Regions from separate parts of the Homo sapiens genome. Here regions 1, 3, 4, 5 and 6 are each reported to be linked to region 2. Evidence: microRNA targets listed by miRTarBase, many of them from high-throughput screens and not tested one by one. Region 2 holds a microRNA gene; each other region holds the end of a gene's coding sequence.
The links. The annotated mature microRNA hsa-miR-301a-3p reads CAGUGCAAUAGUAUUGUCAAAGC and lies in region 2 at 2,306-2,328, shown strand. An mRNA with a match to its seed (bases 2 to 7 or 8) in the 3' UTR can be bound and repressed. Matches are read on the target gene's strand: a 7mer-m8 pairs with bases 2 to 8, a 7mer-A1 pairs with bases 2 to 7 and ends in A, and an 8mer does both.

Region 1: miRTarBase lists SPART as a target of hsa-miR-301a-3p. Seed matches in the 3' UTR shown: 8mer at 3,545-3,552.
Region 3: miRTarBase lists RAB14 as a target of hsa-miR-301a-3p. Seed matches in the 3' UTR shown: 7mer-m8 at 2,742-2,748.
Region 4: the mRNA of IFNLR1 is a reported target of hsa-miR-301a-3p. Seed matches in the 3' UTR shown: 7mer-m8 at 684-690.
Region 5: the mRNA of SLC10A3 is a reported target of hsa-miR-301a-3p. Seed matches in the 3' UTR shown: 7mer-A1 at 822-828.
Region 6: miRTarBase lists GPR75 as a target of hsa-miR-301a-3p. The part of its 3' UTR that is shown has no 7-base or 8-base seed match.

What each region holds. Positions count from the first base shown.
Region 1 is chr13:36,300,377-36,305,616 of GRCh38, forward strand. SPART (spartin) reads right to left here. Exons shown (of 9, transcript NM_015087.5): 9 at 1,262-4,256. The coding sequence ends at 3,989. Among named protein-coding and RNA genes, the nearest start is that of CCDC169-SOHLH2, 5.2 kb to the left of the region's middle.
Region 2 is chr17:59,149,477-59,153,476 of GRCh38, reverse strand. It overlaps MIR301A (microRNA 301a), which reads left to right and starts at 2,256; the gene lies at 2,256-2,341. The region is part of intron 1 of SKA2 (spindle and kinetochore associated complex subunit 2); the gene reads left to right. RefSeq lists a silencer at 3,298-3,377.
Region 3 is chr9:121,178,040-121,183,199 of GRCh38, reverse strand. RAB14 (RAB14, member RAS oncogene family) reads left to right here. Exons shown (of 8, transcript NM_016322.4): 7 at 240-270; 8 at 1,627-5,067. The coding sequence ends at 1,804. Among named protein-coding and RNA genes, the nearest start is that of RAB14, 21 kb to the left of the region's middle.
Region 4 is chr1:24,152,684-24,157,700 of GRCh38, reverse strand. IFNLR1 (interferon lambda receptor 1) reads left to right here. Exons shown (of 7, transcript NM_170743.4): 7 at 1-3,533. The coding sequence ends at 571. It overlaps LOC124903879 (a long non-coding RNA gene), which reads right to left. Exons shown (of 3, transcript XR_007065544.1): 2 at 2,509-2,689; 3 at 1-446. Among named protein-coding and RNA genes, the nearest start is that of IL22RA1, 12 kb to the right of the region's middle. RefSeq lists enhancers at 3,011-3,608, 3,609-4,206, 4,207-4,804.
Region 5 is chrX:154,483,032-154,488,271 of GRCh38, reverse strand. It overlaps SLC10A3 (solute carrier family 10 member 3), which reads left to right. Exons shown (of 2, transcript NM_019848.5): 2 at 1-961. The coding sequence ends at 765. UBL4A (ubiquitin like 4A) reads left to right here and starts at 1,657. Exons shown (of 4, transcript NM_014235.5): 1 at 1,657-1,735; 2 at 1,939-2,044; 3 at 2,293-2,501; 4 at 2,623-4,555. The coding sequence starts at 1,688. The coding sequence ends at 2,733. RefSeq lists enhancers at 1,054-1,113, 1,451-2,209, 2,210-2,968 and silencers at 1,374-1,633, 2,124-2,273.
Region 6 is chr2:53,848,852-53,854,091 of GRCh38, forward strand. GPR75 (G protein-coupled receptor 75) reads right to left here. Exons shown (of 2, transcript NM_006794.4): 2 at 4,061-5,240. The coding sequence ends at 4,283. The region is part of intron 1 of GPR75-ASB3 (GPR75-ASB3 readthrough); the gene reads right to left. MIR3682 (microRNA 3682) reads right to left here and starts at 354; the gene lies at 271-354.

The DNA of each region.
Region 1 (5,240 bases), not on the chromosome of region 2:
CCTTCAGAACCCCAAAAAACTTGTTTAATCCTAAATGGGTCCAGCTAAGAATTCCTTCTTTTTTTTTTTTTTTTTTTTTGTCATGCTTTGAGACCTAGTTCTTGGTGGGTTTTTATTACATTCCAGCCTTTGTATAAGGGCTTTGGTTTTTTTAGCTTTTAGTATTTAACTTAGCCACTCAAGTCAGTACTGAAACAGTTGTTATGGAGGCCTGTGTTAATGAGACCTGGCCTGCCACAAGGTACACTCTGCAGCAGAATACTGATGAATGCACACACATGGTGGGGCAAGTACTCAGGCTGGGGAAAGAACCATCACAAAGGATTAGAGGGGAAATCCTTACAGTTTACAGAGGTAGGAATAATACCTGCTACCACCCACCAGAATGGAAAACCTCTGAATTCACAGGGCATCAGGTACACAAAGGATTTTGATTTAGGAGTCGGAAAAAACACTAGCCCTAACAAGTTGAAAAGAAAGATCCAAAAGTATCCAACTGGTTCTAAGTAACTTAATCCCCTCCCAAGACAAAACTCGAGAATATTTATAGGAACACAAAACATCCAGTACCCAATAAGGTAAAATTCACAATGTCCAACAATATCTTTAGTCTCGTTATGTTGCCCAGGCTGGTCTCAAACTCCTCGACTCGAGAGATCCACCCAACCTCAGCCTCCCAAAGTGTTGGGATTACAGGTGTGCACCTCTGCACCCAAGGTAACATTATTTTCTTAGGGTATGTTAGAACTCACCTGTAAGTCCATCTGGGGCTGATGTTTCTTTGTGGGAAGATTTTAAACTCCTTATGGAACTTGTTTAATCAGCCAAAATACTCCTAAAGAATTTGGTTGAGGGAATTGAGCCTCTTGCCCTAACAATCAGTAGGGCTTACTAATTTACAATGATGACAGTGTGGGACTGGCACAGGAACAAAAGAAATGACAGATGGAACAAACGTCTGAGCCCAGAAACACTCATACTCTATATATAGAGAAAGACCTGTGGGAAATTACTGAAGAAAAGAACTATTCAATAAATGGGGGTTAAATAACTGATTATCTACGGGGTGGGGGAGGAGGGGAGGAATTAGATACCTTACCTCTTGCACACATATACACAATTCTCAGTAAACACCTAAACATGAGAAGCAAAATTGTCAGCAGTGACAACACGCAAATTTTACAGCACAGGCAAATGAATGGCAAATGAACATGAAAAATTACTGATCTAAGGTCAGGAAAGGAGGTCAAGAAAACACAAATTAAAATTATGAGATACTTTTTTATATATGCTACATTAACAATAAAAACATTGCAAAGGGAAGTAATACTCAAGAGAATATCATCATTTTGGAAAATACCTGGCATTATTTTGCAAAACTTGACAAGCCAACAACTCCACTCTTACGCATAAAGTCTCTTGCATATGTGTACCAGGGGACAGTCAAGGATGTTTTGAGTGTACTGTTTCTACCAACAAAAACTAAAAACAAATGTCAACTGATAGGAAAATGAACACTTAAATTGTGGTATACTCACACAGAATACTATAGAGCAAGTAAACCATCCATGCATATAAGCGCAAGAATGAATTTTAAACATAAACTCAAAAAAGCAAGTTGAGTAAGACTTCACATTCAGACACTATATGTAGAAAGCTTCAAAAAATGAAACAGTATGTTTGGAGAACATACATGTGTGATTAAAAAATGGCAAGGAACAATAAAAAATGACATGGGGAAAGAGGTAAGAAAATAGGAAGAACATACATATAGGTAATTGGCAGCTTTCCATGTCTTTAGGTGTGATGAGTTTTTAAGTGTTGTTATTCATCATACCTTACAAGTAATATATAATTTTATCTATATATCAATCATTACACAATATAAAAAAAATCTTTAGAAGATGCCTATCTCCTAATGAGTCAGTGAATGGTGGGAAAAGTCCATTTTCTATAGACTAAGGCAGCACACTTTTTCTGCAAAGGGCCAGAGAGTGAATAAGTTAGGCTTGTGGACCATATACTCTCTGATGCAACTATTCAACTCTCACGTTGAACTAGACAGCAGCCATAGCCAATATGTAAACAAATGGGTACAGCTATGCTCCAATAAAACGTTATTTATGAAAACAGGTGGACATCTGGATTTAGCCCATGGAGGATATTTGCTGACCTCTGGTCAAAGCTAACTGTTTAAAGTTTATGTTCCATTATTTGCCATTCCATTTCTTTTTAAATTTTTATGGGTACATGGTAGGTGTATATATTTATGGGATACATGAGATATTTTGATACAGGTATGCGATTTATAATAATTACATCAGGGTGTATCTACTGCTTCAAGCATTCATTTGTGTTACAAACGTCCCAATTACACTCTTTTATTTTTAAATGTATAAAGTTATTGTTGACTGTAGTCACCCTGTTGGGCTATCAAATACTACAACAAATTCGTTCTAACTATATTTTCGTACCCATTAATCAACCTCACTTCCCTCCCCATCCCTTCAATGCCTCCCAGCCTCTGGTAACCATCATTCTACTCTCTATCTCCTTAAGTTTGATTATTGTAATTTTTAGCTCCCACAAATGAGAATATATGAAGTGCCATTCCATTTCTTAAACAAAGCATAGACTGTCTGTAAGCTATTTACCACTTCACTTTTATTTCCATTTTAACAACTAGTACATTATCCTTGGCCTTAGGAAAAGCCTCCATCAGTTCTATGTGTTCCCAAAATATAAGCTCATGTGATAACGAGGTCAGGCAATTCAGTTTTTTAATTCATAAAGTGCATTCTTCAGACAGCTTCAAATAATGTCTAATTAAGTAGCCACTAGAAGATCAGAAATTATTAGAATGGACTACAGCTATGAAAACTAATACCAATCTCTTAAATTCAATAAACAAAAATTAAATACCATTAGGTATTTAGTTACATAGTTTTTTAGCCTATGTAAGTAAATAGGGCTGTGAATAGTCTGCCTTCTGCCAAAGTGGAAACCATAATGCCTATCCACCATGGATTACGTCTAAGGTTTTCATATTCTTTACCCTGATTATGAATAGAACCTTTCCTTTTTAATAACTTGTCTTTTAATATAAATTCCAATGACCGAATCCCAGAATAAAAATGTTTACCATTAGTAAACTCAATTGTTTATATATATTTTTTTTACAAGTTTTAACCTTTTGGAAAAACAGAAGCAGATATGATAAAATAATTTCTTGAAGTACTTTTTTAATCCAATTAAGCTGATAATAATCACTTCGAATTTTAATACAATACAATCATGTTCCCAAATTTCCTAGGCTCATAACAATACAGTCTCAATACAAAAGACGTAATAATCTATTTTTATTTATTTTAAATCAAAGAGACCATTCCATTTCCTAACAAACAGGTAAGTTACAAAAGTAGTCCATTTTACTTTTCATCAGTCTTTCCCTGTTTTGAACAAGTTTTTTTGAGAATTCTTAGTTTTAGTTTTTGTTTAGCTTACACACTGAAAATTTTGAGAAGCATCTAAAAAAATCCACAATTAGTGCAAAAAGAGGGGACAATACTTTAAGTCATTCCTTCTATAAAAAGAATTAAGGTTACTAAATGCCAATTTTTAAGCAAATATATAGTTTCCTATTTGCCTTCTGAAAGACAGCAGATATAAAAATAGTTCAATATTAGGTTTAACAAGGTTTGAACAACACATGTACTATCAGCTTTATTTTACCTGCAAAAATATTTTAGCTACACTTGGAAAAAAATAAACTTGAGAATATAACTTCACATTTCTAAGGCCAGATGCAAGAATACTTATTCTTTTCCTTTTAAATAGAAGACATGCCATAAAATTTATGAAAGTTAATTTGTAGGAATGAATACATTTAAAAAATACTGGTTAATCTGTGAGGAATTCCACATTTGCCTATTTAACAAAATTTCATCCATTTCATAAGGCTTTGGTATAAGTGATTCCCAGCACTTCATCATTTATCTTTCTTCTTTGCCTCCTTTACTTCCTTCGTCTGCTCATCCTTCTCCCCTCTCACGTTGACATTTGCTGCTCCTTCTTGATTTTCCCTCTGAGAATTATCAACTATCTGATAGTCCTCAAGGAGAGTGTGTCCTGTTTGTGTTGCAGTTTTCTTCACCATTGCTTTGATACCAATGTTGTTAATATTGTAGGCAGTTACGCCAACATTGACCGCAGAATCCACCGCATGGTGGGTAGCTTCTCCTGCATTATATCCGTATCTTTAAAAGAAAGATTAGAGGACATACAATGAAACAATAAATATAAAATAAGGTCTTCTGAATTAGTATTAAATAAGTCAAATGATTACTGTGTTACCCCTGAAAGCAAAATTAAAGCTTAGGTTTCAATTTAATTAATAACTTAAAACACAGTAGAGAATGAAATCACACTCTGTGACAAAGCAGTATTTTCTCCTTTAGTAAAAACAGTGTGTGAAAATAAACTCAGACTAGCTGAGAATGATGTAATAAAGACTGTCAAGTAAAAATAAAAGTGTAAATTATAATACAGGTCATTAATCAGTCATTATTTCTTTTTTTAATCCTCCCTTTCTAGAAATATGAGGGAAAATATTCACAGAAGCAACTAATCTAGAGTCACGTAAGTAGTTTCAAGTTCTACCTTAACCAGACTTTGGCTATGTCTTTTAATTATGGGAATTTGAGTTAATCTTTAAACAGAGATTCTATGGCATTCTCCCCTGCATCCCACTCTACTGCACACTCACTGGCCTCCTTGCTGTTCCTTGAGCCCACCAAGCACTCAAAGGCCTTAGGACCTTTGTACTGGCTGCTCTCTGCTTGGACTTCCCATAGCTCTCTGCCTCACCTTCTTCAAGTTGGCTCAACTATAATCTCATTATCTAACCTGTTTAAATTGCCTTTTTCCACATGCCCACCTCCACCTCTTGACAATCGATTCCCCTTTACACTGCTTTTTTTCTCCCATTACTTACCACTTTCTACATACTATAGAACTTATTAATTATCACTGTTCATGTCTTGCTTCTCTCACTAGAATGTAAACCCTATTGGAGAGGAGAATCTTACCTTTGTCCTTTAACATATCCTAAACATTGAGAATAGTACCTGATATTCAATGAATATTCACTGAATGAATGAAATCAGTAATTCCTGCCCTATCTGCCTCAGAGTTTTTTGAGCATCAAATGCATAGCAAGTGCTTGGGAAATTATAAAGCAT
Region 2 (4,000 bases):
AGCATTTTGTGTTTAAATTTTCTTTGTGCAGTGTGTGTGGGGTTGGAGAAGTGTAGGGAGAAATGGGAGGGAAGAAGGAAGAATTTCCTGCAGATTTTCAAACCTGTAATAATGAACTTTTAGTTTTAAGTTTTATTATCATTTAAAAAAAACAAAATGTTAAGCATTGTAATTTGATTCTGTCAACAGGCTTAAATGTTAAGACTATCTTGCCCTTCTCCCATTCTGAATTCCTCCCTACTGATATAGATATTTCTGCTTAAATTCATAATTCATTTCTGCTAAATGATGCTAATTCTGCTTTTAACAGGTTGTTTGCTTCTCAAATTGGCTGTTTCTAATTTTTAAACTTCGTCTGGCTTTTACAGTAGAGTCAGTATTCTCACAGGACTTCTTTAGATTGAACAAATTCTCTTTTAAGTGAACAATGATGAAGTAAACATTTTGAAAAAGTAGGTTTTAGAAAATTATAAGGTAGCCAGACATTTAAACTTTTAGGTATTGTTTGAATGATGGGGTAGTATTTAAATTCTTTTTGAAGACAGGAAAAAAAGAAATGAGGTTTTTTTCCTTTCTTACATCCTTGCAAGTAAATTAGTGGTAGCTTTTTTTTTTTTCCTTTCAGGTTATTAGTTTGTTTCCATAATTATTAGGGTTTAGAAATGAATTTTTATCATGGCTCTAATTATTACTGCTTTGTGTTGACTAGATAATAAAAGACAGTGCATCTCATCTTCAGATTTACCATGTGCTTCTAGAAAAAAATGTTATACTTGTGGACCAGTTTATTTTATAAGATTTTAAGAGTAAATGATTCCTGTGCTATCTTCTGATTTTTGGTTTTACATCAGTTAAATAAAGGATTTGTCAAGGTAAAAGGAAATGCATAATATTTAATTTGAAAAGAAAGTGTTTATCCTAATTTTGTTAATACCTTAAATTTTTTAAATATTTTTCTTGTTTGTAATAACTTCCAATTCAGAAAGTTAAACACTTATCTTTTAAACAGTTGTCTTTAAAACCTGAAACTTGGCTACCAGCGTTAAATATTCTAATATTTTAGTTATGTGGCCCAGGATTTGACACCAAGACACTTATATTTCAGCTGTCCTTTGTATGAGCCCATTTCCTTAGTAGGCTCAATCCGACTAAGTAGTTGAATTGGACCGTTTAAAGGGAGGTTGGTGAAAATAATGAAAATATATTTTTGCATCAATCAACATTACTAATGGGGGAATAAGCTTATTGTAGGGCAATCTTTGTTCTCTGACTTTTTCCCCTTCACTTAATGATGGGGTGGTATTTGTTTAGCTTTGTTCTTTCGTGGTACTACTAGTGACTGTACACAAAAGGTAATGCAGTGTGATACTATGATACTATTTCTGTTTCTGGGTTTACATCTGACTTCTGATTGGGTTCTTATCCGTTAAAAAAGTTAAAATGTCAATTAGCTTGGAACTAAGGAAACTTGTTACTTAAATCTCAGTCCCACCTCCCCCCATCATTATTTTCTCTTTGACATTTCTAAGTTTGAAGGAAATGGAGATGCTTTCTGCCTCTATTTAAGATTTCAGGAGTTAACTGAAATTTTAAAATCCCCTTGGATAGTATTCAGTTAGATAGGGTTAATGTTCTGTTTAGAGCACATTGATTCCCTTCTGTTGTTATGACAGCCCTTAGTAAACTCAAGATAAAAAGCTGTAAGATGGTAAGTGCTTTTGTGTTTTCTTTGTTTAGTGGTTTAGATTCCAGAGTGATAGATTGAGTATGTAGAGATTGAGAAACTTATTATTTTACTTTTCATTTGTTTTCTTTGATACTTTTATTCAAAGGGCTTGTTTTACATGGCGTTTAATCAGTAAATTGCCTTGAAGAAGGAGCTAACCAACATCTCTGCAGAGAACAAAAATATTTTTCACAACTTTGCCTTAGTAGTAATTATAACTGGTTTTGTTAATACCAATCCTAAAGTATTAACAATACCCATTCTAATTACTATTAAGGCTTAGGGCATATTTACAAAATTCCTTTCTACATCTATGCATGTTTCTGTTCGAATGTTAATTTGTATATTAGTCATCAATAAGCAACATCACTTTGATATTTAAGTCTTATCCTTTTTTAAAAAAACATTGATATAAATGTTTTTTGGTTTTGGATGTTTTTCTGTCCAAAATGGCAACCCTACTTTAAATTCGTTTCTCACTGAAGCTTCAACCGATGCAAGATGCTTTTGTGTTCCTTTCCTACTTATTACTGCTAACGAATGCTCTGACTTTATTGCACTACTGTACTTTACAGCTAGCAGTGCAATAGTATTGTCAAAGCATCTGAAAGCAGGATGCACGCCAGAATTTTGATTCTTACCTTACATCTTTCTTCGGTATCAGTAAATAATTTACCACAACCTTTGTTGCTGAGAACTATAATGTTGTTACTAACAGTATATCTTTTAGAAAGTCATAATTTGAAAAAAAAAAACCTTTTAACTAATTAAAAACAATATTTTACTGCATTATGAAACACGTCTGGAGAATATTTTTTATATCTAAGTTGTTATGGTTTGTCTAAATGAGTAATACTTTATAATTTGTTGCTTTCTGTTACATATTTGGATAGGTTCTGTCAAACTTTAGGTTTTATTTGAGTTTTATGATGAATTGGTAGTGATGGAAACAATTTCTGCTGTATATTTTTCCTGCAGTTACTTGCCCCAAGTCATTTTTTTTTCTCCAGAGACAGAGTCTTTCTCTGTTGCCCAGGCTGGAGTGCAGTGGCCCAGTTACACCTCACTGCAGCCTTGTACTCCCGGGCTTAGATAATCCTCCCTCCTCAGCCTCCTAAGTAGCTGGGACCACAGGCGTGTCCTACCATGCCTGGCTAATATTTTCTTGAAATTTTTTGTGGAGACAGGGTCTCACTGTGTTGCCGAGGTTGGTCTTGAACTCCTGGGCTCAAACAGTCCTCTTGCCTTGGCCTCCCAGAGTGCTGGGATTATAGGTGTGAGCCACTGTGCCTAGTCCTCCAAATCTTAATTGGTGTTAATTTTGTGTATTGTCTAGGAAATGGTTGAATTTAAAACCTAAGAGTGTTTGTTTTACAGTTTATTCTTATGAGATACAATAGTGTGGATTCATCACTTTTAAAAAATATGAATTTTATTGAGATACAATTATATAAAATAAAAGTAAGTAAGCTATTTGTTAAGCAAAGCCGAAGTCTTGCTGTGTTGCCCAGCTGGAGGGCAGCGACTATTCACAGAGGCAATCATAATGCAGCACAGCCTAGAACTCCTGGCTTCAAGCAATCCTCCCACTTCAGCCTCCTGAGTAGCTTGGACTACAGGGGTGTGGCATGCCCAGTGAACTGACGAGTTTTGACAAATGTATACAGTCATGTAACCACCACCACAGCCAGGATATAGAACATTTCTGTTACTTTACAAAAAGCTCCTTTGTGGCCAGGCATGGTGGTGCACCTGTAGACCTAGCTACTCGGGTGGCTGAGGTGGGAAGATCACTCGAGCCCAGTAGTTCCAGACCAGGCTGAGCAACAGAGTGAGACCCCTACATTCCTTTGTGCCTCTTTGTGGTCAACCTCTTCTTCCCCAAGTCCCTGGCAACCACTGATCTCTAGTTTAACTTTTCCTAGAATTTCATATAAATGGAATCATACATTATACAGTCTTTTGTGTCTGGCTTCTTGCACTTAGCATAATGCTTTGAGATTCATCCATGTTGTATATTAGCAGTTGGACAGTTTTTATTGCTGAGTAGTATTCATTGTATAGAATATCACAAACTCTTTATCCACCAACTTATAGACATCGGGTCATTTCCACGTTTTGCATATTATGAATAAAATGGCTGTGGTTGGTCTCGAATTCTTGAGCTCAAGTGATCCTCCTGTGTTGCCCTCCCAAATGTCTTTGTTTAATTTTTTTTTTAGCAATATTTTTTTCTTTTTCTTTAGAGACAGGGTCTCATACTGTCACCCAGGC
Region 3 (5,160 bases), not on the chromosome of region 2:
AATCTCAAGAATGAGGAAGTAACAATGTGTTTCTATTTCTGTGTGATTTATGTTGGAGCAGTACAGTTATTTAGTGACAAATATAAAGATGCTCTCCACCTCAAACTTACATACTTTTTCATAAAATACTATGGGAGGAGTACTAAAAACTGATGGGAAACTTTTTCAGATGTTACTAAAGAAGTGCACTTGTGAGTTAGTTTGAAGTGTCCTAATTATAGTCTGAATTTTATTTTTAGGCTTATTGTTCCTCGAAGCGAGTGCAAAAACGTAAGTGTGACCAAAATACAGATATTTCAATTATATTCAAGTTTCTCAAAGTAGAACCGTATATATGAAAAGTATATAATGTATATACACATATAAAGTACTATCTATAAATGTGTAATGCTTACTGCAGGAAGAACAGCAAACATCTCTTTGCTTCCTTTTTTACATTTCAAAATAATATGAATTTTTGTTACTTAAAAGATTGTACCTTGATTATGCCTGTTGGTAACCCAGGTTAATAAATGAAACTTTGTTTACATTTCAAAAGTGTTTGACTTTTCCCAAATGACAGTGTTTGACTTTTCACAAGTGAGGTTGAGTTTGGCATCTCAGACAAGCTTGGTCAATCTGTTCTTCCTGTAATACTTCTGATCACATTAAAAAGCATGATTTAAGGGAATAGTGTCTACTCAGAAGCATAGTGAACATTTTCTAATTGTTCTTCCATGTCTGCTATTGAACTGTGGTACACCCATCATTGTTCTTCATTTATTAGGCCAAAAATTTCTTGTGGTGAGGAGAGGCTAACCTGTTTTCGTTTAGTCTCAGCTGTGCTATTAGTCCAAAGAAAACTGAATGGAGGTGTTAACGTGGCTAAGCATGATTATGTCACCATTACCCGATTAAAAACAGCTCAGTTCATGCTTGGCTGAGCAGACCATATTATTCTTGGAATTTTTTTCAGCATGTTCAGAGAGATTTCATTTCTGTTTGGAGTATCCTCTCTGTTATCACAGAAATGACCTATCTGAATTGTCATGGTGTGTATTAACATACAGTATTTTAATGATTGCATATAACACATGTAGTTGTCCAAATAGGGTTTGTAGAAAGGGCTTTCAGTACACGTATGTATGTATGCTTTCCATAGAAAGTAGTTTTCCGGCCGGGTGTGGTGGCTCATACCTGTAATCCCAGCACTTTGGGAAGCCAAGGCAGGCGGATCACGAGGTCAGGAGATCGAGACCACCCTGGCCAACATGGTGAAACCCTGTCTTTACTAAAAATACAAAAATTAGCTGGGCGTGGTGGTGTGCTCCTGTAGTCCCAGCTACTCGGGAGGCTGAAGCAGGAGAATCGCTTGAACTTGGGAGGTGGAGGTTGCAGTGAGCTGAGATCGGGCCACTGCACTCCAGCCTGGTGACAGAGTGAGTCTCTGTCTCAAAAAAAAAAAAAAAAAAAAAAGGAAAATAGTTTTCCATGTTCTCTTAGCTCAGTGTTCTGGTAATCTCTTATTAGATGACAGTGGTTAAGTTGGAGACATCATGGCAGTTAACTAAAGATTAGCAAAAGGTCAGTGTCTTGTCTTTTGTAGAAAACTGTGGTTCTCCAATAAAGTTATCAATTGCCTCTTAGGGGAGAGAATGTAGAAGATGCCTTCCTTGAGGCTGCCAAGAAAATCTATCAGAACATTCAGGATGGAAGCTTGGATCTGAATGCTGCTGAGTCTGGTGTACAACACAAACCTTCAGCCCCGCAGGGAGGCCGGCTAACCAGTGAACCCCAACCCCAGAGAGAAGGCTGTGGCTGCTAGTGACCTCTTTGCTGTGGCCCCTCATTTGACCTTTCACCTCTGTCTGTTGGAAGCAGTACTTTTTACTGCCTCATTGTCTTCTGTACATCTTACTGGGTTTAATTAAAAAAAAAGAAAAAACTCTGTTGTAAAAACAGTTTAACACAATACTAAACTGCTAAACAACTAGATGTAATCAGGTTATCAAAGGCAAGTAGAGTAATAAATCTCTCCTGCATGGTAAATCTAGACTTTTTTTCCCCCTTGTCCTCGTGATAAGTATGTCACCAATATATGATTTAAACCGAGCACTGATGCTGGACTTCATGATTTTTACCCTCCCTTTGGCAAGGCTTTGTCTCACTGTACGGTTTAATTTGGTGATATCTTAAGCCTTTCTTCCCATCCTTAACTGTTCAAGTATGTCTGTTGTAACCAATAAGTTTATTGCTGTGAAATTACTTCTGATGGTAGAGAAGGGGTTCTATAACTGCTTTTGTTTTGTTTTGGATAAATTTCCTGTTGTGTGGGTGGCATTTTTCTTAACGAGATTTGCTTCTGTCTTAGCCTCACACAGGGAAAATATCCATTTATCTTCTCTCTCGTGCTTAATTAATAGCTTTATCTTTTTTTATACCATTTTATCCTTTTCTCTTTAACAGAAAGTAAATATGTATAAAATTTGAAGGAATCGAACTAACAATACATTCTGTGTATATTATTTTAATGAAGAAAATAAATTGATTACTGGCATTGGAACAGTATAAAATACCAGTTTGTACAGTATGACCTATATGTGACCATGTTACTCCCTTCCATTTCACACAAAGAAATAGACACAACTGCAGTTCACAAGTAGTACTGGCTCCACCCCTTGGTGCTGGCAGTGTTTGGGGACATTATGCTGGAAAGAGCTCCTAGCATCAGAGGATTAACACTAGCAGATTCTGTTCCATCTTTGCACTGTTGCTTACCTGCTGATTTTCTTAACTGTTCTTGTGCAATCGACAATGTGCTAACCTGCTTTTCTCTTTTTGTAAACGTTTTTGCATTACAGGCTGCATTCTTGCCTTACTGTATAGAAAAAGAAAAAAGGCTGGGTTTACTATTGCACATTTTAAGCTTTTATACCTTTATCTTCTTGGAATGGTCAGATTCTGAACTGGACAGTCAGAACCACAGGTCTGCTGTTAAGGGATTTTAAATTGTGCATTTTTAACCCTACAGTGAAATAACTTAAGATATCCCTGTGTTCACAGTGTGAGGGGCTGTTTTATGTCATGTTGGCATAAATTGTTTTGTAAAAGGGAAAGTGTTTCTAAAGGTGTTTCAGCGCTTGTGCTGATACAAAGTAAGTTATTACTTTGCACCAGGTGGTTTGGCCACTGAATTAATACTGTATAGCAAGAGAAACAATCTTATTTTTTTGGACAACATGTTTTATTAAGTTCTTCATTTCTGTTGATTTTTTTTATTGCATTTATGATTCAGTGGCTGGGAATTGAGAATTTATTTGAAATAGAATAGGTAACACCTCAGCGTACTATAGAAAATGCACTCAGCTCAACTGCTGTGTTTAAAATACACATTTTAAATCCCTCTTTACAGACACTAACATAAAAGTACATCTTTCTGGGTTGTAAACATGTGGTAGTACCAGAGTATTGTATAGTCAATGTTAAATAAAAGCCAAAACTGGAATGTGCAGAAAGTAGGCTTTGGTTAATTTGTGGATTCATTTTTATTTTTGTCTTTGTTTAACTTTTTAAAAAATAAGATTTCTGGAGTAGATTGGTATATTCTGTTAAAGACTTACAGTGATCCATTTTGCTTACACTGTTGCATCACAAGGGACTCACCCAGGGACCATGACCTGCTGGTGTGTGTGTATATTTACAAAAACAAAACAAACAAACCACCCATTGGGATATAAGGTAGCAATCACAAACTAAAGACTGCGGCTTGTTGAGGTGCAATACCCTGACTCCCAAAGTTAGTTACAGTGGGTTTTATTGTTTTTGTGACTGAAGGATTTATTCAGACTGCTGTACTCTTCATTTGATGTAACAAAATGCTATTAATCTAAATATTTGTAAATAAAGTACCTGTATCTAGATTAAATTAAAATTGGTTGCATTATTTTCTGAACTATAATAGGGTTTTTCTTCAGGTGAACAATTTGACGTGTCATCAGTTTTTATTGCAGCACTGTCCATATTCATTGTATAAAGAGAGGTCTACGTATGTAGCATATAAAACCACATCACTAAGTAATAGACCCACAGCTTTATTCTTGTGTTTACATTACCCTTGAAATGTTTTCAGTCAACCCTTTTCAGTGTAAGATCAGCACATTTGGTGGCTGATGCTGTTCTCCTTTGACTGTACCGGGAGCCAGATTCTATCATATGCATGTGTAATCCCCTGTAATACACTCAGGTGCTCACAAATAGAGCAGATTGTCATATTGTAACATGCGTGTGCCAGACACCGGGCAGTACACTTTGGAAAGAATGTGAAATCCTTTTAATTTTTAATCCATAGCTTACTGCTTGTGCAGTCACCTGCCTCTTGAGGTTGCTCATTGCCCTTGGACCTGTGAGGAGGCCTTCAGATTAGTAATTGGTGCTTAGTACTATTTATGCTTAAATAGATCTTCCAGTACAATGTTGAAGTCTTTTTTATGGATAATAACGTGTTTGATGGAGTAACTTATTATTTTTTTTTGGTTGGTGGTTTACACGTTAATAGAGGTAGTACAATTTCTTTGGAAAGGTGTCTTTTGAAGCCAGCTGTTAAGCTTCATACATTACCTCCCTTCTCAAATTCGGTAAGACAGTAGTTTTGGGGAACTTTTTTGCCCATGTGTCTTTTAAGTGTGATTTTAAAAAAATGAGTGGTTCAGTTCATTCCCCTAAACAGAAGAAAAGACCAAATAATTACCTTCCATTCCTCTTCATGTGGGAATATAGAGAGGGTTCATGTGGCATTTTAGAGAAAAGATAATTTATCCTCATTCAACACAGGCCCAGAAAATTGTGTCCCAGAAGGATGTCAGTAATTGTGACTAGGCCAGGCCTTTTAGCATTTTGCTAAGACTTGAAACAAAAAATGTAAATACAAAAGAAATCAAGTTTTGTTTTGAAAGATGCCTTCTAGAACTTACTGTGTATTAATAAATTGTCACTTTCATTGTCTTTATTGTAACTCCATTGATCCCGTATCTTAACGGTTCACGTCTAGCCAAATAACTGTTTTGGAATAAAAACCTTGGTGGTGAGGGATGACTGCACTGTGCTGCTCTGTATTATTAGTAACAGGGTAACATACCTGTTGTGACTCAAAAGCTGTCTAGTAGTGATCTAGAAAAGAGTTCC
Region 4 (5,017 bases), not on the chromosome of region 2:
GGAGGACACAGAAGATGGCGTCAGCTTCCAGCCCTACATTGAACCACCTTCTTTCCTGGGGCAAGAGCACCAGGCTCCAGGGCACTCGGAGGCTGGTGGGGTGGACTCAGGGAGGCCCAGGGCTCCTCTGGTCCCAAGCGAAGGCTCCTCTGCTTGGGATTCTTCAGACAGAAGCTGGGCCAGCACTGTGGACTCCTCCTGGGACAGGGCTGGGTCCTCTGGCTATTTGGCTGAGAAGGGGCCAGGCCAAGGGCCGGGTGGGGATGGGCACCAAGAATCTCTCCCACCACCTGAATTCTCCAAGGACTCGGGTTTCCTGGAAGAGCTCCCAGAAGATAACCTCTCCTCCTGGGCCACCTGGGGCACCTTACCACCGGAGCCGAATCTGGTCCCTGGGGGACCCCCAGTTTCTCTTCAGACACTGACCTTCTGCTGGGAAAGCAGCCCTGAGGAGGAAGAGGAGGCGAGGGAATCAGAAATTGAGGACAGCGATGCGGGCAGCTGGGGGGCTGAGAGCACCCAGAGGACCGAGGACAGGGGCCGGACATTGGGGCATTACATGGCCAGGTGAGCTGTCCCCCGACATCCCACCGAATCTGATGCTGCTGCTGCCTTTGCAAGGACTACTGGGCTTCCCAAGAAACTCAAGAGCCTCCGTACCTCCCCTGGGCGGCGGAGGGGCATTGCACTTCCGGGAAGTCCACCTAGCGGCTGTTTGCCTGTCGGGCTGAGCAACAAGATGCCCCTCCCTCCTGTGACCCGCCCTCTTTAGGCTGAGCTATAAGAGGGGTGGACACAGGGTGGGCTGAGGTCAGAGGTTGGTGGGGTGTCATCACCCCCATTGTCCCTAGGGTGACAGGCCAGGGGGAAAAATTATCCCCGGACAACATGAAACAGGTGAGGTCAGGTCACTGCGGACATCAAGGGCGGACACCACCAAGGGGCCCTCTGGAACTTGAGACCACTGGAGGCACACCTGCTATACCTCATGCCTTTCCCAGCAGCCACTGAACTCCCCCATCCCAGGGCTCAGCCTCCTGATTCATGGGTCCCCTAGTTAGGCCCAGATAAAAATCCAGTTGGCTGAGGGTTTTGGATGGGAAGGGAAGGGTGGCTGTCCTCAAATCCTGGTCTTTGGAGTCATGGCACTGTACGGTTTTAGTGTCAGACAGACCGGGGTTCAAATCCCAGCTCTGCTGTTCACTGGTTGTATGATCTTGGGGAAGACATCTTCCTTCTCTGCCTCGGCTTCCTCATCTGCAGCTACGCCTGGGTGTGGTGAGGGTTCTAGGGGATCTCAGATGTGTGTAGCACGGAGCCTGCTGTGTCCTGGGTGCTCTCTACGTGGTGGCCGGTAGAATTCTCCATCTATCCAGGCTCCAGGAGACCCCTGGGCATCTCCCACCTGTGGCCCCTAAACCCAGAGTGACTGAGAGCACTTAACATTCAGCTTGTCTCATCCCCAGTCTACCTCCTTCCTTCTACCCTCACTGCCTCCCAGTCAGGAGAGTGAGCTCTCAGAAGCCAGAGCCCCACCCAAGGGGACCCTGGTCTCTCCGCCTTCACCTAGCAATGGGAACCCTGCTTCCCAGGGGAGGAACCAACTGCTCCACCTTCTAGGGACCCAGTTTGTTGGAGTAGGACAGTAACATGGCAGGAATCGGACTTCTGGGCCTGTAATCCCAGTTTGGATGGCACGTTAGACTCTTGGTTGACCGTTGTGGTCCTTAGAAGTCCCATTCTCCCTTCCAGTTATGAGAAACCAATGCCTTCTAGATTCAGGTGACTATCCTTACCTGGGGGTGCTGATGCATCCTCAGTTAACCTACACCCACCTGAATATAGATGAGCGTAGCTGAGTTTTCACCCGTAGGACCGAAGTGTTTTGTGGTGGAGTATCTGAACAACCTTGGCTCTGTGGCCATTCAACCTGCCAGGACTAACATTTCTGGATTTGTGAAGAAGGGATCTTCAAAGCCATTGAACCCACAGAGCTGTGTTGCTTTAAAGCCACCACAAGGGTACAGCATTAAATGGCAGAACTGGAAAAGCTTCTTAGGGCATCTCATCCAGGGATTCTCAAACCATGTCCCCCAGAGGCCTTGGGCTGCAGTTGCAGGGGGCGCCATGGGGCTATAGGAGCCTCCCACTTTCACCAGAGCAGCCTCACTGTGCCCTGATTCACACACTGTGGCTTTCCACGTGAGGTTTTGTTTAGAGGGATCCACTACTCAAGAAAAAGTTAGCAAACCACTCCTTTTGTTGCAAAGGAGCTGAGGTCAAGGGTGGCAAAGGCACTTGTCCAAGGTCGCCCAGCAGTGCTGCTCTGATGACTTGTGCACATCCCCAAGGGTAAGAGCTTCGATCTCTGCACAGCCGGGCCAACCTCTGACCCCTTGTCCATGTCAGTAAAATATGAAGGTCACAGCCAGGATTTCTAAGGGTCAGGAGGCCTTCACCGCTGCTGGGGCACACACACACACATGCATACACACATACGACACACACCTGTGTCTCCCCAGGGGTTTTCCCTGCAGTGAGGCTTGTCCAGATGATTGAGCCCAGGAGAGGAAGAACAAACAAACTACGGAGCTGGGGAGGGCTGTGGCTTGGGGCCAGCTCCCAGGGAAATTCCCAGACCTGTACCGATGTTCTCTCTGGCACCAGCCGAGCTGCTTCGTGGAGGTAACTTCAAAAAAGTAAAAGCTATCATCAGCATCATCTTAGACTTGTATGAAATAACCACTCCGTTTCTATTCTTAAACCTTACCATTTTTGTTTTGTTTTGTTTTTTTGAGTCGGAGTTTTGTTCTTTTTGCCTAGGCTGGAGTGCAGTGGTACAATCTCGGCTCACTGCAACCTCCACCTCCCGGGTTCAAGTGATTCTCCTGCCTCAGCCTCCCAAGTAGCTGGGATTACAGGCACCCGCCACCACACCTGGCTAATTTTTTTGTATTTTTAGTAGAGACGGGGTTTCACCATGTTGGCCAGGCTGGTCTCGAACTCCTGACCTCAGGTGATCCGCCCGCCTCGGCCTCCCAAAGTGCTGGGATTACAGGCGTGAGCCACCGCGCCCAGCCAAACCTTACTATTTTTTTAAAGAATTTTTTCCAGAGTTTAATTTCTGACATAGCTTAAGTTTTCCAGTAACTCTAAACTCCATCTCCTTTATCGTCATTAAGTCATTCACAAAAAGCCAGGAGAAGCATTTGGAAAGGGCATGATAATCAGTATAATAATTTGCCTTGTGTGGTCAGCACTTAACTGTTTACAAAGCCCTTTCACGTGCACAGCAGGTGGGAACTGCGCGGTGTGGGCTGGGCCTGCGCTGGAAGCATATCCCGTGAAAAGTGTTAGTGCCTTAGGTGAAAGCAACATGTATCCCTTTAGACTACTAACGGTATATGTTGTTCTTATGTATTTGTATTTATTTCTATTTTTTCTATGTTTATGTCATATTTAAACGATATCCTACTGCTTGTTGGTATTACCCTAAACTGTTTAAATAAAGAGCTCTATTTTTAAAGAAAAAAGGTACAATTGAATGGAAAAGCGTATGCTCTTATCTTTTTTTTTTTGAGACAGGATCTCACTCTGTCATGCACGCATGCCCCACCAGGCCTGGTTAATTTTTTTGTTTTTGTAGAGATGGAATCTCCTATGTTGCCCAGGCTGGTCTCAAACTCCTGGGCTCAAGCAATCCTTCCCGCCTCGGCCTCCCAAAGTGTTGGTTGGGATTATAGGTGTGAGTGACCGTTTCTGGCCTATGCTCTTATTTTTCAAAGGCTCCTCACCTCTCCTCTGGGAAACCTAGCTGTTAAGGCTACAAGGGTCAGCCAGGCAGGGTGGCTGATACCTGTAATCCCAGCACTTTGGGAGGCCGAGGCGGGCAGATCACGAGGTCAGGAGATCGAGACCGTCCTGGCTAACATGGTGAAACCCTGTCTCTACTAAAAATACAAAAAATTAGCCGAGGGTGGTGGCGGGCGACTGTAGTCCCAGCTACTTGGGAGGCTGAAGCAGGAGAATGGCATGAACCCGGGAGGTGGAGCTTGCAGTGAGCCAAGATCACACCACTGCACTCCACCCTGGGCAACAGAGCCAGACTCAGTCTCAGAAAAAAAAAAAAAAAAGACTACAAGGGTCTTGAGTCGGGTCCCCAGAAGCAAACCCAGAGAAAAGGTAGAAAGGTAGAAAGCAGTGCAGTGATCCAGGTAACGCCAGGAGGGGAGTGTGGAGGCAAGATGGGGCGGAGGGTAGGGGAGGAGGGGAGTGTGGAGGCAAGATGGGGAGGAGGGTAGGGGAGGAGGGCAGCCAGGCAAAGTGTGTCATCAACAGGTCCCTGCTGTGGGCAGCTGGACCTCAGTGCCCCTGGAGAGCTCTGGAAGTCAATGTAGGATGCAATTCAGATTTGGTCCCACTGCCAGGGGCAGGAGCCAGGGAGTCTAGCTACTCCCTCCCATCAGTCCAGTGTGGAGGCCGTTCCCTGAGGCAGAGTTGCAGGTACTTGCAGTTGGAATCCACCAAGCTGAGTGCACAAGAAAGGGGAGTGCCATGGGGCTGAGGGCAGGGTCCCCAGCCAATATCCCTTGTTGTAGTGAGGCTGGAGCTGACAGCTCACCCAGCTGCAACTATGGTCCATGGAAGGATATGGAACAGCACCTGTGCGCCTAGCTTTGCATTGCCAAACTCATTCCAGCAGCTCTCCATTAGCAAGGGTCTCCCAGTTTCCAACAACTCTCTCAAGGCCACCTGGTGACTGTCTTAGCACTGTGCCCGCAGTTGTCACCTCTTATTGGTGCCAGGGCAGGCGCTAGACCCAAGCCTAGCTGATCTGACAAGTCCCTCTCCCTGGAATTCAGTAGTCTCCCTGGCTGGCTGGGCCTGGAGCAGGTACCTTCCAATCTGCCATGGCCACATTTCCCAGTCTGAGGAACAGTCTGCAGACAAGACAAGAAAGCAGCCACTGCCACGTGGGCTGCCGAGACAAGAAACGGCAACCCCTGCTTCTGGTCCC
Region 5 (5,240 bases), not on the chromosome of region 2:
CAGCCCATGCTGCTGGGCCTCCTGGGCCAGTTTCTGGTCATGCCCTTGTACGCTTTCCTCATGGCCAAGGTCTTCATGCTGCCCAAGGCCCTGGCTCTGGGCCTCATCATCACCTGCTCGTCGCCTGGCGGCGGGGGGAGCTACCTCTTCAGCCTCCTTCTTGGAGGGGACGTCACCCTGGCCATCTCCATGACTTTCCTCTCTACGGTGGCTGCCACTGGCTTCTTGCCTCTGTCTTCGGCCATCTACAGCCGCCTGCTCAGCATCCATGAGACGCTCCACGTGCCCATCTCCAAGATCCTGGGGACCCTGCTGTTCATTGCCATCCCCATAGCCGTGGGCGTGCTGATCAAGTCCAAGCTCCCCAAGTTCTCCCAGCTGCTGCTGCAGGTCGTCAAGCCCTTCAGCTTTGTGCTCCTCCTGGGCGGCCTCTTCCTGGCCTATCGCATGGGGGTCTTCATCCTGGCAGGCATCCGGCTACCCATCGTACTGGTGGGTATCACGGTGCCCCTGGTTGGCCTGTTGGTGGGCTACTGCCTAGCCACGTGTCTGAAGCTGCCAGTGGCCCAGCGGCGGACGGTCAGCATTGAGGTAGGGGTGCAGAACAGCCTGCTGGCCTTGGCCATGCTGCAGCTATCCCTCCGCCGCCTTCAAGCTGACTATGCCTCCCAGGCCCCCTTCATTGTGGCGCTGAGCGGCACCTCCGAGATGCTGGCCTTGGTCATTGGCCACTTCATCTACAGCAGCCTGTTCCCAGTTCCCTGAGGCCTCTGGGTCAAGCTTTCATCAGCCCCAGCCCCCACACTCCACCAAAGTTCTCATGCACTATGCACTCAGAAAAATCCAGGCTTATTTTTTTTACTGATTTTTTATTCTCCAGCTTTCAGTGCCAAAGAGGCCATGCTGAGTTAGGTAGGTGGGCGCTGCCCAGAAAATATATTTCAATAAAAGAGAGAAGCAAGCTTGGGTCCCTTCTACTCTTTGCCCTTTGGGGCCTGGGCGTGGGGGTAGAAAGAGTGTGCTGGGTAAGTGTGGACCAGGGTGGAGGGCCAGCTTGGGTGACACGGTGACCCCTGCATAGGCTTTCCCTATCAGCCCTCCCCGGGGGTGTCCCCACTCTGGGAGAGGTGGGAGGATGAGGGCAGAGGCGTAGCCCCCCTGCCCCCTCTCAAGCTCAGTGGAGCGTTTCGCAGCCAGACCAGAAAGGAGGAGGTAGGAAGCCACCAGACAGGGAGCGGGGGCGGGCCGTCTGTGGGTATGCAGGGCCAGGCGCCGCCAGCAGTCCTGGCGCGTGAGGTGGGCCAGGCAGTCCGCGGGGGCGAGCGTACCTTCTGGCCCTCCCTTCTCCATGTCCCAGCTCCCAGATGACGCCAACCTGGCCCGACTGGTTCCTGCTCCCAACTCCCCCGCGTCGTTGCTTTGGGAGGGGTCCGCCGGCCAGGGCGGTCGATGCGCGCATGCTAGGCGGGACCCCGGGGGGACTCCTCCCGGGGCGCAATTGGGCCGGGGGGCGGGGCCGGGGCGCGGACGGGGCAGGAGGGCGGGGCCGGGAAGCGCGGGCGGCGGGCGCGCCCCTCTCGCTGCTTCCGGCGGCGGCGGGCGGTTCCAGCGCGCGCCCGGGGCGGCGGCGCGCGGCGGGGGGTGGTTGGGGTGCGCGCCGGCCCGAGTGGACGCCGTCGCGACCGCCATGCAGCTGACGGTGAAGGCGCTGCAGGGCCGCGAGTGCAGCCTGCAGGTAGGGTCCCCGGGCCGGGCCGCCGGGTCCGGCGCGCTCTCTCGCCCGCTCCTGGCAGGGGGACCGGCAGGGCCGAGGGCGGGCACGGGGCGGCCGGGCCGAGGGCCGGGAGCCGGGAGAGCTGCCCTCGGGGGCGGACGCGTGGGCTTCGCCGTCTGGGGGCCGCGGGCTCAACCCTTGCCTCCCACCCTCCGCGCGGCCAGGTGCCAGAGGACGAGCTGGTGTCCACGCTGAAGCAGCTGGTCTCCGAGAAGCTGAACGTCCCAGTGCGCCAGCAGCGGCTGCTGTTCAAGGGCAAGGCCCTGGCAGGTACCCAGGGAGAGGAGACGCCCGGGGAGCCCCGCAGGAAGCGGGACCGGGGTGCGCGGGCCGAGGCCAGCAGCCGTGTGTCGGGTCGGGGTGCGGGCGCCAAGCGCCACATGACCCCAAGGGAGGCGGCCGCATGCCTCACAGCCGGATGCCGCAGCGCTCCGCTCCCGCCGCCCGAGGCGGCCTCGCGCCCCGGGCCACCCCCACGGCGGTGGAGGAGGAGGAACCCATCGATCTGTCTTTGGCAGATGGGAAACGACTCTCGGATTATAGCATCGGGCCCAACTCCAAGCTCAACCTAGTGGTCAAACCCCTGGAGAAGGTGCTACTAGAAGAAGGCGAGGCCCAGAGGCTGGCCGACTCCCCACCCCCGCAGGTCTGGCAGCTGATCTCCAAAGTCTTGGCCCGCCACTTCAGTGCGGCAGATGCCAGCAGGGTCCTGGAACAGCTACAGAGGGTGAGAAGGGTAACCCTGGGCATCCTCTTCAGGCCCAGTTGCTCCCAGCCCCTACCTCTGTTGCAGTGTATGCCCCCCCACCACTGGCAGCCCCTGAATCTTCCTGCCCTTCTCTCCCCAGGATTACGAGAGGTCCCTGAGTCGCCTGACGCTGGACGACATCGAACGGTTGGCCAGCCGCTTCCTGCACCCTGAAGTGACTGAGACAATGGAGAAGGGCTTCTCCAAATAGAATTCTCGGAGCATGGGGAGGTGCCCAACGCCAGGCTACCGCTGCATGTCGCACTAAGTGTGTTCTCCTGTTGCAGTTGGGCTCATCATCATCATAGCTGGCATGTACCTGGCTCTGGCCAGGTGCTAGGCACTCCTCACAGCTTGACCTGGGTTTGCTTCCACACCCTCAGAAGAGGAGAGCCGGCACAGCAGAGGCACCGGCGATGAAGTGGCACAGCCCCAGTCGGAATCCAGCGGCTTCTGAAAGTGCCTTGGTGTGAGAAGGAGGAAGGGGCCGCTTGGAGAGCTGGGCTCTCGCATGTCATGTTTAGCCCACTGAGAATATACCCTCAGGTGACTCCCTCCCGATCCTGAAAGGGAAAGCAGCTGTCACCTGACTTCTGGCGGGTCCAACATAGCCCTCAGCTTACCTCTGCAGGAGGCCAAGTGACAGCCAGCCCTGGAACCCCCCGACCCCCGCAGCTGCTGCAGCCAGTGTGCCAGTGTGCGTTCGACAAATGGAAAAGCAGATTGGGGCCAGGGAGTCAGCAAGGCACCCCAGCTCTGTGATGTGACTTTGGGCGAGTCTCAGTGCCACTTGGTCCCCAGCCATGGACTCTATACAGTGAGGGCCACTCACCGACCTGAGTCAGTGTCCTCTGTCTCACAGGGCCCCTCTCCCTTCTGTTCAGTAAACAAACTGAAGCCAAAAATGAAGCCGTGGCCAAGTGTGACCCAGAGATGGGGTGTCCTGGCCCTTAGTGACACAGCTCCTCTCTGGGGCACCCTATCTGCTTGTCTCGTCCAGGAAGCGTTAGGGCTGATGGGTGACTCAGCAAGGCAGTGTCAGAGCTGGGACTGGGCGTAGGCCTTTGTCCTCATCCCCAGCACTGGCCTCCCTGTGGAAGATGAACATATCCCAGCCACCTGTGTACAGGGGCTCACTTTGTGTGCTCCTTGTTGCCTGAGAAGAAACCTTGGGGTGCCAGGGTGGGGGCAGAAGCATGGACTGGGTTCCGGTTCATCCTCCTCCACCCTGCCGTGTGTGTGGGCACAAGAGGACATCTAACCACCTGCTCCTTGGAGGAGGCCCCCAGGGGTGGTAGAGGCTGGAAGGAAGCCACATCAGGAGGACGCCACTCCGGCCCTTCACCCTTGCCAAGTGAGCTGCTCACAGTGTGGTCAGGGCTGCGCGTGCTGGAGGCCCTCCTGCCTGGGCCTTGTGGGGCAAATATTGGGTCCCCAGGCTGGAAAGATGGACAGAGGCCCAATGGGTGAAGGCTTTGAAGAGCACACAGAAGCCCCTGGCCCCCCACGAGAGCTGGAGAGCCATGTATATGGCTTCAAAGCCACCTACGGCAGGGACACACTCGTGAGCATGTGTGGCCTGCAGTTCAGGTGATACATTTACCAGTGTTCTTGTTTGTGTGGTGCCAGGAAATTGATTTTGGAAAAAGTGAAATAACATTAAAGGTGAATGTGAGGCTTCTACTTTTATCCAAAAGGAGCTATATTAGCTAGGCTGTTTCTGATATCCAATCATTGGTTTAACAATAAAGGCAATTTGTTTAATCAGTTAACGGAAATTTCTTGGCTTATGAAAGTGAAAAGTCCAGTGGTATTGGCATTGGCAGCAGGTGAGCAATTTCACCCAGTGTCTTCTGCCTCCCTCTGCGTTGGTATCTGCTACATCCCAGGCCACCACCTCCGAGGATGAAAAGATGGCTGCCTGCAGCTTCCACGGAATCCCTCCCTCACTGCCAGAGCAGCATCTTCTCTGTGTACCACCTCTGCTGTCTCAGATGCCCCCAGCAAATAAACACTCTTCTCGTTGGTCAGAACTGGATTGTGCGTCCAATCATTTTGGCTGGGGTAGGGGGTAATTCTCCGTCAGGGCTGGCTCCCTGGAGCTAGGCATGGGGCCACTTCCCTGGACACACATGGGCTATGCAAGGGACAGAAGGCTCTGGGGGAGGGCTGGATGAATGGATATCCTCAATGGTGGCCGCAAATGGCAGCTGTCCACTACAGGGGCCATGCATGTGTCAGATCAGGGCCACCTCGCAGGTAGTGGAGGAGAGGGCTGGAGGCGTCAAGATCACACAGGGAAAGCGTTTTCTGAGGCTTGGGTTAGGGAAAGCACCAGAGAGAGGAAACACTGCAGGGATGGGAGACAGGAAGTGGGGGGATCGTTAGAGGACACTGGGGATTCTGCATGAAGATGGAGCAGCCACAGGCTGCAGCCCCCCCAATGCTGAGATCCTTTAACAGGGGTCAGAATGTTTACTGCAGGTGCTGCGCCCCTCTGAGCCAATTGTCCGCCCTGAGAGGTAGCACCGAGTCATCCACTGCCCCCTGCCCGGTGAAGGGCCCTGAGACCCACCACCTGCCCCTCAGGGAGGGGCCTCGGGACAGTATCTGAGTCCTGCGGCCATGGTGTGACTACAATGACATCAGGAGATAGCAGCATGAGTGAAGGGCCCAGCTGGGATGAGGTGCTTTTGGTGTCGTTTCCCAAGGGCCCAC
Region 6 (5,240 bases), not on the chromosome of region 2:
TCATTATATTGCAAACTGGTGTTCAGAAATGTTAGGATTTTCAGTATTTTTATTTTCCAAACATTATTTTAAAAGAACATTAAAAGCATTAGAAATACAAATCTTGCCTAATGGTTAACATACGAACAATTATTATAAAATGTTTAAAATACGTCACATACTTTGCATCACAGTAAGCATCAAGAGAACTAATTAACATATCCTGATAATTAATCATATTCAACTGAATTCTCATTACTTTTAGTTCTCATTTTAGCCCTTATGAAGAGATAAGTTATATATTTCTACCTCCACCTGTATCATCATGACACCTTTATTATGATAACACAGGTAGAAGTAGACATATATAACTTACGAAGAAAGAAGTTATGTCTCTATAGATATAGAGATATAGATACGGACGGGGGCTATGAATCGAGCCCACTATGTATTTCATGCAATTTATAACAATAATTTTTTTAACTTTTCTTTTGGAGATTATTTTTTGATGAGCATAAAGAGACAATACCTCATATGCACCTGCTTAGTTTTCTTTGTGCTGTAATTTTTACCTCCCAATGATGGGCCTCATGCCAGTCAAATCATCTCAAACTCAAACGTCACACAGAAAACCTGCCATTTTAAATTTTATAAATAGAAATTACTTTTGTGTTAATATTTTATTGTATCACATTTGAAATGCCTAGCCAATTTTTGTATTTTTAATAGAGACAAGGTTTTTTGCATAGCCAAAAAAATAGATATATGCCTTTAAAAATGTGATGCTTGATTAATGTTGTCTTCATTATAAAGCTGTTTGGCACACTGGGGTAAATACCAGGTTTTGAATTAAGACAAAAATCTAATTCCTAATTTGCCACAATTCTTTGTACGATCTTGGGAAAGAATATTAGATTTCTTAATTCTTTGTTAAAAAGAGATAATAGGCCAGTGCACTGGCTCACGCCTGTAATCCCAGTACTTAGGTAGGCCGAGGTGGGTGGATCACAAGGTCAGAAGTTTGAGACCAGCCTGGCTAACTTGGTGAAACCTTGTCTCTATTAAAAATACAAAAATTAGCTGGGAGTGGTGGTGCGTGCCTGTAGTCCCAGCTACTCGGGAGGCTGACACAGGAGAATCGCTTGAACCTGGGAGGCGGAGGTTGCAGTGAGCCGAGATTGTGCCACCGCACTCCATCCTGGGCAACAAGCATGAGACTCCATCTTAAAAAAAAGAAAAGGGAAAAAGGGAAGGAGGGAGGGAGAAAGGGAAAGAAGGAGGGAGTAGGTAGGCAAATCAGTCTAAAAGGTGAACTTAAAAACAAAATAATTCGAGGCTGCCCCTGGGTGTGGCAAGAAAAAAATTTAGAAGAAAAAGAAAACAAAAGAAAATCTATGCCTATTTAAATCTCAAAAATAGAAATAACTGATCAATACTGAAAGGTAACAGTTATAAGATAAGGTTGAGCAGAGTTCTAATTGAATATCTATTCTGTCTTCTCTATACCTCTCATGACCCCTGTATTTGGGGAGAGCTGAGGGAGGAAACTATAAATTAAATGCCTTTCAGCTGGATGTGGTTTCTCATGCCTGTAATCCTAGCACTTTGGGAGGCCGAGGTGGGTGGATTACTTGAGGCCAGGAATTCAAGACCAGCCTGGCTATCATGGTGAAACCCTGTCTCTACCAAAAATACAAAAATTAGCCAGGAGTGGTGGCGGGCACCTGTAATCCCAGCTACTCTGGAGGCTGAGGCAAGACAATCGCTTGAACCCGGGAAGCGGAGGTTGCAGCGATCTGAGATCATGCCACTGCACTTTAGCCTGGGTGACAGAGTAAGACTCTGTTTCTACAAAAAAAAAAAAAGACTTTTACGCAAAGGAACAAAGTACCTTCCAATCTGCAATAATAACTCTTGAATATAACAATTTATAAAGATAGGTGTTGTATATTGATGCTCATCTTGTGTGTCTAACATTTAAAAACCTAGTGAGTTCAAATACTAACTGTATACTGAAAATATTTTTACAATAAAATATGAGTTCACAGTTGTTATGCTAGGAATCTCAGAGCATATAGTAAAATTAGTTTCAGGTATAGAAATACTTAAATCTATTTTTTCTTTCTGCCCATTTCCACTTTAAGATTAATGGGAGAGAAATAAAATGATTAGTTTGAAAATAGATTATCTTGAGAATTTTTCTACCATAATAATAAATAAAGACAAAAAAGAAGTCATTTCTAAATAGTTACTTGAATACTGTCAGGTGGTTAGTAAACTCTTCTCACACAGAAGGAAAACATAAATCAAAACATTCCCAGTCTTATCTGTAAACCTTGTTAAGCAATAATAAATATTGCCCAATGCATGACAGGAGTCCACACTGTTTTCCACAGAACACCGAGATGATTACCGCAGTGCCTTCTCTCCTGGGAACAGTGCACCTCTACCATAGATGCAGTCCTCTTCACTAGGCTTCTTGAATAAGATCATTCAGAAACAATTCACTTTTGGGCCAGTTGGGGTGGCTCATGCCTGTAATCCCAGCACTTCGGGAGGCCGAGGCAGGCAGATCACCTGAGGTCAGGAGTTCAAGACAAGTTCAAGACCTGTCTCTACTAAAAAATACAAAAATGAGCTGGGCATGGTGGCACACGCCTGTAATCCCAGCTACTCAGGAGGCTGAGGCAGGAGAATCACTTGAGCCCGGGAGGCGCAGGTTGCAGTGAGCAGAGATCATGCCACTGCACTCCAGCCTGGGCAACAGAGCAAGACTCCCTCTCAGGAAAAAAATAAATAAATAAATAATTCACTTTTAACAAGCAAAAATATATTTCTTTTCTTTCTTTCTTTCTCTTTTTTTCATTTTTTTGAGATGACATCTCGCTCTTGTCACCCAGGCTGGAGTGCAATGGCACGATCTCAGCTCACTGCAACCTGTCTCCCAGGTTCAAGCGATTCTCTTGCCTCAACCTCCCGAGTAGCTGGGATTACAGGTGCTTGCCACCATGCCTTGCTAATTTTTGTGTTTTTAGTAGAGACGGGGTTTCATCATGTTGGCCAGGCTGGTCTCGAACTCCTGACCCTCAGGTGATCCACCCGCCTCAGCCTCCCAAAGTGCTGGGATTACAGGTGTGAGCCACCATGCCCGGCCCAAATATATTTCTTTTCAAAAGAATTGTAAACCTACTCAACTGACATAAAACATGTCTATAATAAGAAATGGCAATAATCATAATACTATATTCTTAGTTGACTGTCCTATGAAAGAAAAGTACCTAATACCTGTGTGAGTGTTTTTGGTAAAGACAGAGTTATCACCTTTTCTGCCTTAAGAATATATATATTTCTGGCTAAGCACAGTGGCTCATGCCTGTAATCCCAGCACTTTGGGAGGCCGAGGCAGGCGGATCACCTAAGGTCAGGAGTTGAAGACCAGCCTGACCAACACAGAGAAACCCTGTCTCTAATAAAAATACAAAAATTAGCCGGGCATGGTGGCATGCGCCTGTAATCCCAGCTACTTGGGAGGCTGAGACAGGAGAATCACTTGAACCCGGGAGGTGGAGGTTGCGGTGAGCCGAGGTCATGCCATTGCACTCCAGCCTGGGCAACAAGAGTGAAACTCCGTCTCAAAAAAAAAAAAAAAAAAAAAAAAAAAAAAAGAATATATACATTTCCTTTAGAGACAGGGTCTTGCTGTGTTGCCCAGGCTGGACTCATAATCCCGGGCTCAAGTGATCCTCCTGCCTCAGCCTCCCAAGTAGCTAGGACTACAGGTGCATGCCACTGCACCCAGCTAACAATATATTATTTATTCAAATCAACCTGCTACCAACAAGGTGTAGTGTTCCCGATTTCAACACTTCAAAAAATCAAAATTTACAATTCAATTAATAAAAATAACACCTCAGCAAAAATCATATTTTCACATTCTTTAAAAAAAATCCAGTCAATACCTTATTTTGAAGTCACATAACACTGACTCAAATCATGATAATCGGTTGACTTTCTACTTTAACACAGTAGCTTCATTCCTGGCATCTATTTAAAGGCTCGGTACAAAAGACTGAGGCAAAGAGCAGGGTAAAAAATCTAAAACTTTCACATCAAATCTTAAGATGTCAACAAACTACAAAGCAAATCAACAGATACTGACACATCAGATGAAAGAAAACCATAACTGCCAACTTTTCAGTTGAATCTTGTAGGTTTTGATCCGCCACTGATCTCAAGTTAGAATAAAGTCCATTACTATCAGAAACAAAAACTGTTTACATAAGATCCTATAGCCTCCATGACTTTAAACGGAGGGGACTGGAATCTGCTTGGCTGAAGTGCTGTCATATTCCTGCACTAAGTCATTAGTGGTGTGATAATGCATGGCAATATATGAATTGGCAAATCCAAAAGAGTTTACTGGCTGTAAGTTACATGGGCTGCTCTCCTCCTGGGAAGGGCTGCTGTTATAGATGCTGTAGTAAGGTTCAATCCGAGTGTTGATGGGGGTCGAGCTGCTCTGACCACAGTGTTGATGTCCAGCAGAGATCTTGGGACTCACCATACTTTCTTTTGAATGACTTGGGCCACAAGCCTGGTCCACAAATTTCTTCTGTGGCTTTGGAGATAACATGTAGGCAGAGTTTGTTTCATGATGGGAGGATTTGTTTCTGTTGACTTCGAGGTTCCCTTTTCCCATGGCTCGAAGTCGAGTCTTTTGTTTGCAGCAGAAAAAACCCAGGCCTATGTATTGGAGGCACCAGAGCACTTTCCTTCTCAGCCCTGCACTGTTCCGAGAATATATAAAAGGGTTTAATCCTGACTTGAAAAATATAAGAGTAAATCCAAACAATTCAAACTGGTAAAGAATGAAGCTCCCATTGCTGGAGAGAACCACCTGTACCAAGGAAATCCCCAGTGGAAGACAGCACACCAGGACTGACAGCACAATGATCACACAGGTGACCACGGCTTTGGAATCCTTGGCAGTGGAGAGGTTGATGGCTGATACGAGCTGGAGTCGGCTTGCTGCAGGGGTGACCAGTTGGTTGGGACTCTTGGTATATCCACGGGTCTGAACGTGCTGCAGTTTGTTGTAATTCTGGTTCCTATACAGAGCCGGCATGGCACACTGGATGGGATCTCCACCTCCCTGCACAGGGACCCCCATGAAAGGCTGTGGTCTGGAAGCATCGACTGTGATTACAGGGGGGCACTTTCTGACTTGAGCGTTCTTCCGCAGGGTCTGAGCAATCATGATG